Regions from separate parts of the Homo sapiens genome. Here region 2 is linked to region 1. A link means that fine-mapping ties the variant in region 1 to the expression of a gene that starts in the linked region. Tissue or cell type: whole blood. Region 1 holds a variant in brackets; the other region holds the start of a gene. All regions are shown on one strand. Distances are from middle to middle.

Evidence for each region. PIP is the estimated chance that this variant, and not a neighbour inherited with it, causes the effect.
Region 2: SLC39A9 starts here. The variant in region 1 is fine-mapped to the expression of SLC39A9 in whole blood (TOPMed, PIP above 0.99).

Annotation. Positions count from the first base shown.
Region 1 is chr14:69,437,599-69,443,118 of GRCh38, reverse strand. It overlaps SLC39A9 (solute carrier family 39 member 9), which reads right to left. Exons shown (of 7, transcript NM_018375.5): 3 at 853-1,050. Among named protein-coding and RNA genes, the nearest start is that of SLC39A9, 42 kb to the right of the region's middle. The variant T/G (reference allele first, on the strand shown) is at 3,101.
Region 2 is chr14:69,395,937-69,400,637 of GRCh38, reverse strand. It overlaps SLC39A9 (solute carrier family 39 member 9), which reads right to left and starts at 1,946. Exons shown (of 7, transcript NM_018375.5): 1 at 1,173-1,946. The coding sequence starts at 1,268. It overlaps ERH (ERH mRNA splicing and mitosis factor), which reads left to right and starts at 2,339. Exons shown (of 4, transcript NM_004450.3): 1 at 2,339-2,407. The coding sequence starts at 2,405. RefSeq lists enhancers at 1,654-1,993, 922-2,121, 2,323-2,830, 2,831-3,339 and a silencer at 2,090-2,330.

The DNA of each region.
Region 1 (5,520 bases):
AATATAAATCGTATGAAAAATGTTGACCTAGCCAAAGATAAATTCATTGATCTTAAAACAAAACAGTTACTATGACTGGAGTCAAATTTGAAAAGTCTTGGGGAATTCTAGTTGTCCTTTAGAGAAGCTTATGATTCCTTAAAAAGCAAGCTACAAATGTGTTTAGGTACATTTGTAAGAAAATACCTTTGTAAATCAAGATTTTCTACACCAATAACCATCAAAACAAAAACCCAAAATCAACTAGATGTTTAACTTGACATACATGTTGCCTTGTTACAGACTACCTCATAATTTAATGTTCTTAAGCCAAGCATATTATTATGTAATAGCTAGCATACTAATGTCCTAGAAAATAAAATTCAACTCTAACTTGTTTAGGATTTAAATGTATTATCTCATTATTTAATGCACTGATAAAGACATACATTACTATATCACAAATTTGTTCTGATGTTTTAGTAACTGTATTTCAACAAAGGTGGTTTTCTCTTTGATCTTATGTACTATGTTTTATACATTTAAAAACAATATTCCAATAAAAGGTCCACAGTCTTTAGACTGCCTAAGGGCTCCACAGCAAAAAACTAAGTTAAGAACTTCTGCCCTAGACTCTCAACCAAATGTGACAACTTTAAGACAAGCAAAGTAATAAACCAATAAACACTTCTTTGCGCCACATGCCACAACTCACTAGCTCTCCCCACTTAGTTAAATGTTCACTAGAACCCAAGGAAGACAAGAGTTTTAGCACTAAATATGGCCACTGATACAGACTGAAATATTTGATCGTTTGTAACTTTCTCAACTGCAAATGTATTGCACTGCCCAGAAAGCCTTGGAGCCACTCACCGTCAGTAGAATGCACATGGGAGTTACCAATCTGGTCCACCAGCAACATGAAAACGAAGCCCAGAACGAGGGAAACACCAATATAGGCATGCAGCTGTGTGTGGTCGTGGCTGTGCTCATGTTCATGGACAACTGATTTTTCTGCTGCTTTGTCTGATGCAATCACATTATGTGTTTCACTTGCTTGGTGGTGTTTTCCTAGAGCAGAATAAACCATAAAGAGAAAATATGTTTTTCCCCTAAAAACATTTTCATGTAGGAGTTTCCATTCTTTGTATTTCAAGCTCTACTTACTTTACTGTAAAGACATCCACTTTTTATATTGTAATCCAGCCAATCATTAACTCCTTCAACTTAAAGTTCATGATGAAAAAATTCCCAAATGTCTTCTGCCTTTGGCATGCAGACCTTCTGACTGCCTATTATTCTCAACACCTGGGAAGTGGAAGCAAATCACCATGCAAGAAAGCAATCATATTCCCAAAGGGACACCATCCCCAAATATTCCTTTATCTGAGAAATTCATGCCAATCTCACCAGAAAATACACTGTTTTTTTCTGATGAAAATAGGCAAATGAAGAGCAGTAACAATGAAAATAATTGCAATCAAATTCATCTAGTTTATACCTAGGCTGAGATAAAAATGTAAAATAAGGAACAAATTGAGTAGAAAATTTTTAGCTTTATAAAATATCAGCAGACAATTGCCAGCAAGAAACCAAAAGGGCAGAGCAGTTTAAGAGGCACATCCTTCAGTCTAAATTCAGTTCTAGAAATATGGAGGTTGGGAGACTCTGAACTGCAGTAAATGATACCTGGCCAGCTGATAATCCCAGTTTACAGTAACATATTTGTCATTTAAAACATAAATGCTTCAAAAGGCCAAAAAGCTTATCTTTGCTATATTTCATGAATAGAGAATAACATACTAGACATTTATCATTTATAATCAGATTAAGCAGTTTAAGCCTTCTTTAAAAATTGAGACAAGGTCTCATCTTTCACCCAGGCTGGAGTACAGCAGTGGTGCAATTATGGCTCACTGCACCCTCGACCTCCCGGGCTCAAGCAATCCTCCTACCTCAGCCTCCCAAGTAACTGGGAAACCACAGGCAAGTACCACCATAACCAGCTAATTTGAAAATTTTTTTGTAGAAATGTGGTCTCCCTATGTTGCCTAGGCTGGTCTTGAAATCTGGGGCTCAGGTGATCCTCCCACCTTGACCTCCCAAAGTGGTGGATTACAAGTATGAGCCACTGTGTCCAGCCTAGAGATCCTGTCTCTTAAAAACAAAACAAAACAGGCCAGGTGCAATGGCTCATGCCTGTAATCGTAGTACTTTGGGAGGCCAAGGGGGGCAGATCACGAGGCCAGGAGATCAAGGCCAACATGGTGAATCCCCGTCTCTACTAAAAATACAAAAACTAGCTGGGCACGGTGGCGCGTGCCTGTAATCCCAGCTACTCAGGAGGCTGAGGCAGGAGAATCGCTTGAACCAGGGAGTCGGAGGTTGCAGTGAGCCGAGATCACGCCACTGCCTTCCAGCCTGGCAACAGAGGGAGACTCTGTCTCAAAAAAACAAAACAAAACAAAACAGTTTCACAAAATAATATCCAACCTTACAACAGTTACAATGTACTCTTCTGTTTCTTTCTCTGTCTCTCTCTCTTTCTTTCTTTTTGAGACAGGTATGGCCCTTTCACCCAGACTAGACTACAGTGGTGCAATCTCAGCTTACAGTAACCTCCATTTCCTGGACTGAAGTCATCCTCCTACCTCAGTCCCCCAAGAATCTGGACTACAGATGTGAGCTACCAAGTCCTGCTAATTTTTATATTGTTTTTGTGGAGATGTAGTTTTGCCATGTTGCCCAGGCTGGTCTCAAACTCCTGAGCTCAAGTGATCCGCCCACCTTGACCTCCCAAAGTGCTGGGGTTACAGGCTTGAGCCACCGTGCCTGACACTATTCTTATGTTTTTGAGACAGAGTCTCACTCTGTACCCAGGTTGGAGTGCAGTGGCATGATATCGGCTCACTGCAACCCTGTGCCTCCAGGGTTCAAGTGGTTCTCATGCTTCAGCCTCCCGAGTAGCTGGGTTTACAGGTGTACTACATGGTGAGTTCTTGCAAGATCTGATGGTTTTTAAGGGGCCCTTCCCCTCTTCATTTAGCACTTCTCCTTCCCGCGGCCTTGTGAAGAAGGTGCCTTGCTTCCCCTTTGCTTTCCGCCACGATTGTAAGTTTCC[T/G]GAGGCCTCCCCAGCCATGCTGAACTGTGAGTCAACTAAACCTCTTTAATTGACCTTTATAAATTACCCCGGCTTCAGGGCCTTTTGTGGTTACATATGAATTTTAGGATCGTTCTATTAAGGTTTATTTGGCTTACAGTTCTGCAGGCTGTCCAAGAAGCACGAATCTGAGGATCTCAGGAAGCTTCCAATCATTGCAGAAGGGGAAGAGGAGTCAGTATTTCACAAGACGAGAGAGGGGAGGGGTGCCATGCTCTTTTAAACAACCAGTTCTCTTGTTAAATTATAGAGGGAGAACTCACTCATCAGCAAGGGGATAGCACCAATATGTGCATGACGGATCCACCCTCATGACCCAAACACCTCCCACCAGGCCCCGCCTCCAACACTGGGATCAAGTTTCAACACTAGATGTGGAGGGGACAAATATCCAAACCATAGCAAATGCCACTGGAATTATGATAGGGGTTGCATTAAATCTGTAGATCACTTTGGGTACTACGGATATTTTAACAATATTAATTCTTCCAATTCATGAACACAGAATACCTTACTTATATTTTCTCCAATTTTTTAAATCAATGTTTTATAGTTTTCAGCATATAGATCTTTTACCTCCTTGGTTAAATTTATGCCCAAGTATTTTATTTTATTTTATTTTCTGATGCTATTATTATTTTTTTAAAAATTATACTTTAAGTTCTAGGGTACATGTGCGCAACGTGTAGGTTTGTTACATATGTATACATGTGCCATGTTGGTGTGCTGCACCCATTAACTCCTCATTTACATTAGGTATATCTCCTAATGCTTTCCCTCCCCCTCTGATGCTATTATGAATGAAATTGTTTTCATAGTTTCTTTTTCAAATAGTTCATTGTTAGTGTATAAAAATGCAACTGATATTTGTATGCTGATTTTGTATCCTGCAACTTAACTGCATTTGTTTATTAGTTCTAATTTTTTTGTGTGTGGAATCCTTAGGTATTTCTATGCATAAGATCATCTCACCTGAAAACAGAGACAACTTTACTTCTTCCTTTCCAATGTGAATGCCTTCTATCTTTTTTGTCTGCCTGACTGTTCTGGCTAGGGCCCCCTATATTTTATTTAATGTAGAGTAAAGTGACAGAAAAAGCCACAGTTAATCATACCTCTATAAAGAATCTGATACATGGCATTCTTACAGAACTGATAAAAATGAGTGGGATAATCTACATTGAGCCATGGCTGACAATAGCAGTTTTGACAATACATCACATTTATATTTTCATCTTTGACCCAATAGTCTACCTTCCTAAACATACCAATTCTAACAGTCCAAAGAATTTTGAGATGTTTTCAAATTTTGGCTGCACAGTAAAGTGCTGCATTACCCAACAATCTTTGAAGTTCTTAAAACTTGTTTCTATAGACAGTTTTTTTTTACGTGAAAGCTGATAATCATCTAATTCCAGTGATTTTAGAGCTATAATTACAGAAGAGTAAGAGGTTCCTTTTTACATTAATTAGTATTTAATAATGCTTATTAAAGCATCAGAGCACTTAGTTAACATGATATACTGAGTTCTGAAAACAATGTATTATAATTATAAGGTCCACAGAAGAACGAAACCATAGGCTGTAGTAACATGTATACAAACGTCTTTCTTGAAGTACGAAGAAAAGTTGTTTTGGTCTACAATAAAGAAAGAGGGGGGTCAGGCGCGGTGGCTCATGCCTGTAATCCCAGCACTTTGGGCGGCCAAGGCAGGTGGATCACCTAAGGTCAGTTGTTCAAGACCAGCCTGGCCAACATGGTGAAACCCCGTCTCTGCTAAAATACAAAAATTAGCTATGCCTAGTGGCAGGTGCCTGTAATCCCAACTACTAGGGAGGCTGAGGCAGGAGAATCACTTCAACCCAGGAGGCGGTGGTTGCAGTGAGCCGAGATGGTGTCACTGCACTCCAGCCTGGGTGACAAGAGCAAAACTCTGTCTCAAAAAAAAAAAAAAGGGTAAGGGAAGAGGGTAAGAAAAGAGAGAGTAAAGCAGCAAAAACAAAATTACAATGATATGTCTAAACTCATCAGTATGAAGAAAGATGTAAAAAATCTGGAGACAGCTTAGCTGAAAGGTAATATCATGGTTAAGTTACTTCACAGATTTTTTTGAGTTACTCTTCCCAGCACTTTGGGAGGTTGAGGCAGGTGGATCACGAGGTCAGGAGTTCAAGACCAGCCTGGCCAAGATGGTGAAACCCATCTCTATTAAAAATACAAAAATTAGCTGGGCATGATGGCAGGCACCTATAATCCCAGTTACTTGGGAGGCTGAGGCAGAGAACTGCTTGAACCCGGGAGGTGGAGGGTGCAATGAGCTGAGATGGTGCCACTGCACTCCAGCCTGGGCGACAGAGTGAGACTCCGTCTCAAAAAAAAA
Region 2 (4,701 bases), 42 kb after region 1:
GGTGTACTTAATATTTCATTTATACCTTTCCTTTCTACTTCAGGCCTCCTTTGAAAGTACTTTCAGGAATGGCACTGAAACTAGGGCCTATTTTACTGCTGAACTCTAGGACAAACTCATGAAATCTTGTTCCCTTTGAATGTAGTAGTTTTTCCCCCCTAAATCTTTGAACGCTGTGCACTTCGTGAATTCCTTTTGCCTACCTAAAGGACCTATCAGCATGTTCACTGAACAGTGCTTTCATCTATCCCTCTTCCCGGGACCCTCGCTTAACATCTGTTCAAGGTGCCAATCAAATTAACGAAAATGTCAAAACGTATTAACCAAAAATTCATTGCTAAGCAAATAGATTTGAAACAACTTCAGAATATCAATTCCAAGGCTCCCCTTCTTTAAAAGGAAATGTGAGTTAAGAACAATCTTAGTTTTTTCTTACATTCATTCTAGTACAGACATCCAAAAAACAAAACAGCTTTCCTCAGAAAGGTGTGTTTGACTTTCTCAAAAGGAAGTTATCATATTGATTTCAGTTCATGTAGAAAAATAACATTCTCCATTTCTTTTTTTTTCTTTTTTGGAGACAGGATCTCACTCTGCTGTCCAGGCTGGAGTGCAGTGGCCCAAACACGGCTCACTGCAGCCTCAACCACTTGGGGTCAAGCGATCCTCCTGCCTCAGCCTCATTTGTAGGGACAAAGTCCCGCCACGTTGCCCAGGCTGGTCTAGAACTCCTGGGCCCAAGCGATCCTTCCACCTCAGCCTCCCAAAGTGCTGAGATTACAGGCGTGAGCCACCGCGCCCAGCCCTCCATTTATTTTCTTGATAACAATCTGGAATCTTGATTCCATGAAACCTCTGAGAATCAAAAGAAATGTTATGGTGCCTCTCTCCAGGTAAATGCACAGAACCTCAAATTTTTGTAAGCAATTCTAGGGGATTCAGAATACTCCAGGATCTTCCGTGGAATATCTATCCACCCCAGGTTAAGAATTCCACTAATGAATATGAGGTTTCTTTCTATTATTAAGTGTCATGTATCTTTTAAAAAAGATAGTCTTTCTTAATGAGACCTTCAGCTTTGAGATTTAACTAGGGAAGCAGCTTCCCTTTGCAACTAAAACTACTATCTCACAGCCATCCTGACAGCTGACAGAAAATTGAGAATTTCTTACCTCTGAGAAATTAACAGCCAAGGGAATGATTCCGGCCACGTAACATCCCACCAACATAGCCAGAGACAGCAGGCTAATGGAGATGAAATCATCCATTCTGCCCTCCTTTATTCACCCACAACCACTAGACAACAAATTTCCAGTGGCTTTAAATGGTGCTTAGGTTCTTTAAACAGGTGTGGTGGTTCCAAGAGAGTGGGCTTTCCAGTTCTTTAGGCCTTCCCACCAGCAGATGTGTTCACGAGGCACCTTCCTCTTGAACGTACCCGGCAACAGACCCTTTTTGCTGATATTAGCACCAGAGAAAGCTTACAGCAATCTAAGGTCCCAGGCTCTGGGTTCTCAGATGCCAGTCATTAGATTCTCGTGGGTTAACAGAGATGGGAAAAGTCAATGGGGAAAATGTGCGAATGATCGATTTCTTCGATTGTCGGATTGAGGGTGGCACAATGTCTTAGGCGGCGGCGGGTAAGTGACTCAAGCGAACCTGTTCGTTCCCTAGGCGCCCCTGTCTCCAAGAGGCGGCCCCGAAGGTGATCCGCCCCCCAGAGCAGGAAACCAGCCCACCAGTCCCAGCAAACTCTCCTCCGAGCCTGGGATGAGGAAAGGAGTCCTGCAGGTCTCTAACGATGGGTCCTAGGGGTTCAGCAGCAAAGTTGACACAAAGCTGTCTCTGCCCTATACCCGGTGCTGCCCATGGTACTGCACTCGACCGGGCCTTGACCCGGAGTCGCCGATACTACAGCTGCCATGGCCGCCAAGTGGCATCTCTTCATTCCATCCACTTCCGGATTGTCTAACCACCCCCTCCTTTACAAAGGCACTTCCGGGTTACAACCGACCTCCGGCCCAGGATACTTACGTTGCCGCCATTTTTGAGTAGGGCTAATGAAAGATGTCTGATGTCACTGTCTATACCGGTGATCACTTGAGCCGTATGTTTAATAACGAAAGTACGGAAGACAGCGTCTTGAAAAAAAATAATTCTTCCTAAAGCTTGGAAACTTTCCCTTACCTTTTTGCCTTTATCGAAGATGGCTGAAACAGAGTCAGTAGCTGCTCTAGCTGCCGGAAGTGACTGTGCCTCTATGATCCAAAAGGCTCTTTTGCGTTGCACTTTCGACGACTTCCGGCGGCTCCTCTCGCGAGGATTGGCTGTTAGCGGCGTTGTAGTTAAGCTCGTGTAACGGCGGCGGTGTCGGCAGCTGCTGTAGCGAAGAGAGTTTGGCGCGATGGTGAGAAAGGCCTCCGCGGCTACCCGAGTCCGAGTCCCCGGCCTCCAGAGCGACCCCAGCCCCATACGTTTTCCCCTCCCCACGAGCCCCATGCAGCGCCGCGTGATGCTCCCCGCCACTCTAGTCGGTGGATTGACCCTTCTTCCCGCCGCAGGGACGCCAGGCCTGACTCTAGGCCTCGGAGCCCCGGTCCGCCCTGCGGTTGCGCGCCCGCCTGCTCGCTCGGGTCCGGCGTGCCTTGGGCCTGAGGATGAACTCTCTCCCGATTGTTACTCGGTAGAGGGAGACGTGGGGGAGGTGTTTTGTTTTTTGAGATAGAGAGTCTCACTCTATCGCCCAGGCTGGAGTGCAGTGGCGGGATCTCAGACCCCTGCAACCTCTGCCTCCTGGGTTGAAGCAATTCTCCTGTCTCAGCCTCCCTAGTAGCTGGGATTACAGGCGCCCGCCACCTCGCTCGGCTAATTTTTTTATTTTAGCAGAGACGGCGTTTCACCATGTTGGCCAGGCTGGTCTCGAACTCCTGACCTCAAGCAATCCACCCGCCTCGGCATCCCAAAGTGCTGGGATTACAGGCGTGAGCCACCGGGCCCTGCCGGATATGGTATTTTTCCCTCCAAATGCTCTAGCCTGCTGTAGGAACAATGGGCCAGGGTTGTCTAACTATTCTCGAAGCTGACAGATCCAGCTATACCCAGCATGTGGGCCAGGAGAGGACGTATTTGCTTTGCAGTGTTTTTTCAGCTTTCGTTTTCCTGTGCTCTGCCTTTTTTTTTTTTTTCCTGTTTTTGAGACCTCTAGGTATTGCGTGTGGCGCGTCCCTCAGCCCTCGATCCTGTACTTATCTGTATTTATATCCTCTTGGGGCTGGAGGCTGAAAAGTAGGCTCAGCTCAGAGACCAGCTCTATTAGAACCCAACCGGGATGATCAGTAAGCTCCAATTCGAAGAAAGTGACCAAAACTGGCTTGAGAGGTGGTATAATCTGTAAAGAATTTGAGCAGGAAAGCATTGCCATTTAAAAATGATAACCACTTGACCACAGTTTTTAAAATGTATCATGTTATGTTCTTAGTGATTTTTAATCCTTGTCTTTGGGCAGTAAGTACTGAAAATAGTAAACTTTGCCCGGTGTTCATTTTAAGACTAGATATAAAAAGCAACATGCTGTATAGCTTTTTCCATTCTTACCCTTTCAAATTAGTCCTTTAATTTGCATTAGAATTGGAATACAATTATTATAGTAGCAGTTGAGATAGCTAGTGTATAGGGCAACCTCTGTTGCAAGAATGCACGTGGTTTCTACAAAATTATTTTTTCTTAAATGACTCGTTGAAACTTTTTGAGTAGCTAGCTTACAAAGACTTCTGTATAACAAATAATCTAATATGATGCTTTCTGTGGCTTTTAAATCGATTTAACAAAGGCTTTGACTGCTCAGGTTATTACAGGTGAGAGTTAATCCTTCGTCTCTTGTCACCAAGTTCCGTTTTTATGTCAAACCCTCTGAAACTTTTAGTCAAAGTGGTTTAGTTCTTGATGGGGAGAGAAGGGTATGATAACCCTTGGTTTTGCATGTCATGTTAAATGTACTATTTTTCCATTGTTTATTCAGAAAGTCTGGGCTTCAGCTATTTCTGTTCCAATTTGATGGTTAAAAATTCTGATCATTTTGTCCAGGCGCGGTGGCTCACGCCTGTAATCCCAGCACTTTGGGAGGCCGAGGCAGGCAGATCACCTGAGGTCGGGAGTTCAAGACCAGTCTGACCAACATGGAGAAACCCCATCTCTACTAAAAAGACAAAATTAGCCGAGCATGGTGGTGCATGCCTGTAATCCCAGCTACTTGGGAGGCTGAAGCAGAAGATTCGCTTGAACCCGGAAAGCAGAGGTTGCGGTGAGCTGAGATCGCGCCTTTGCGCTCCAGCCTGGGCAACAGGAACAAAACTGTCTCCAAAAAAAAATTATGTTATTCCAAAACAGTTTAGGGTTCCTGTTAGGAAATTTTTGTTTTCTGGTTTTTGGCTGAAAAATACTAGTACAGCAGAAGAGAAGGAAAAAGGTGAATAGTTTGATTTGGGACTGGATTTACAGTGGAGTTGCATCATACTTGCATTTAATTAACCTTACACATGTAGCAGAAAATTGGATGGGTCATATTTTCAACAGACCAGTGAATTCTCAGCTGGATGAGATTTTTTGCTCCCCAAGGGACATTTGTAACAAAGAATCAGTCAACCCAAAAGGTAATAGAGCCCACGTTGAGAAAACACTGAGATTGATTTGTTAGTGACTGAT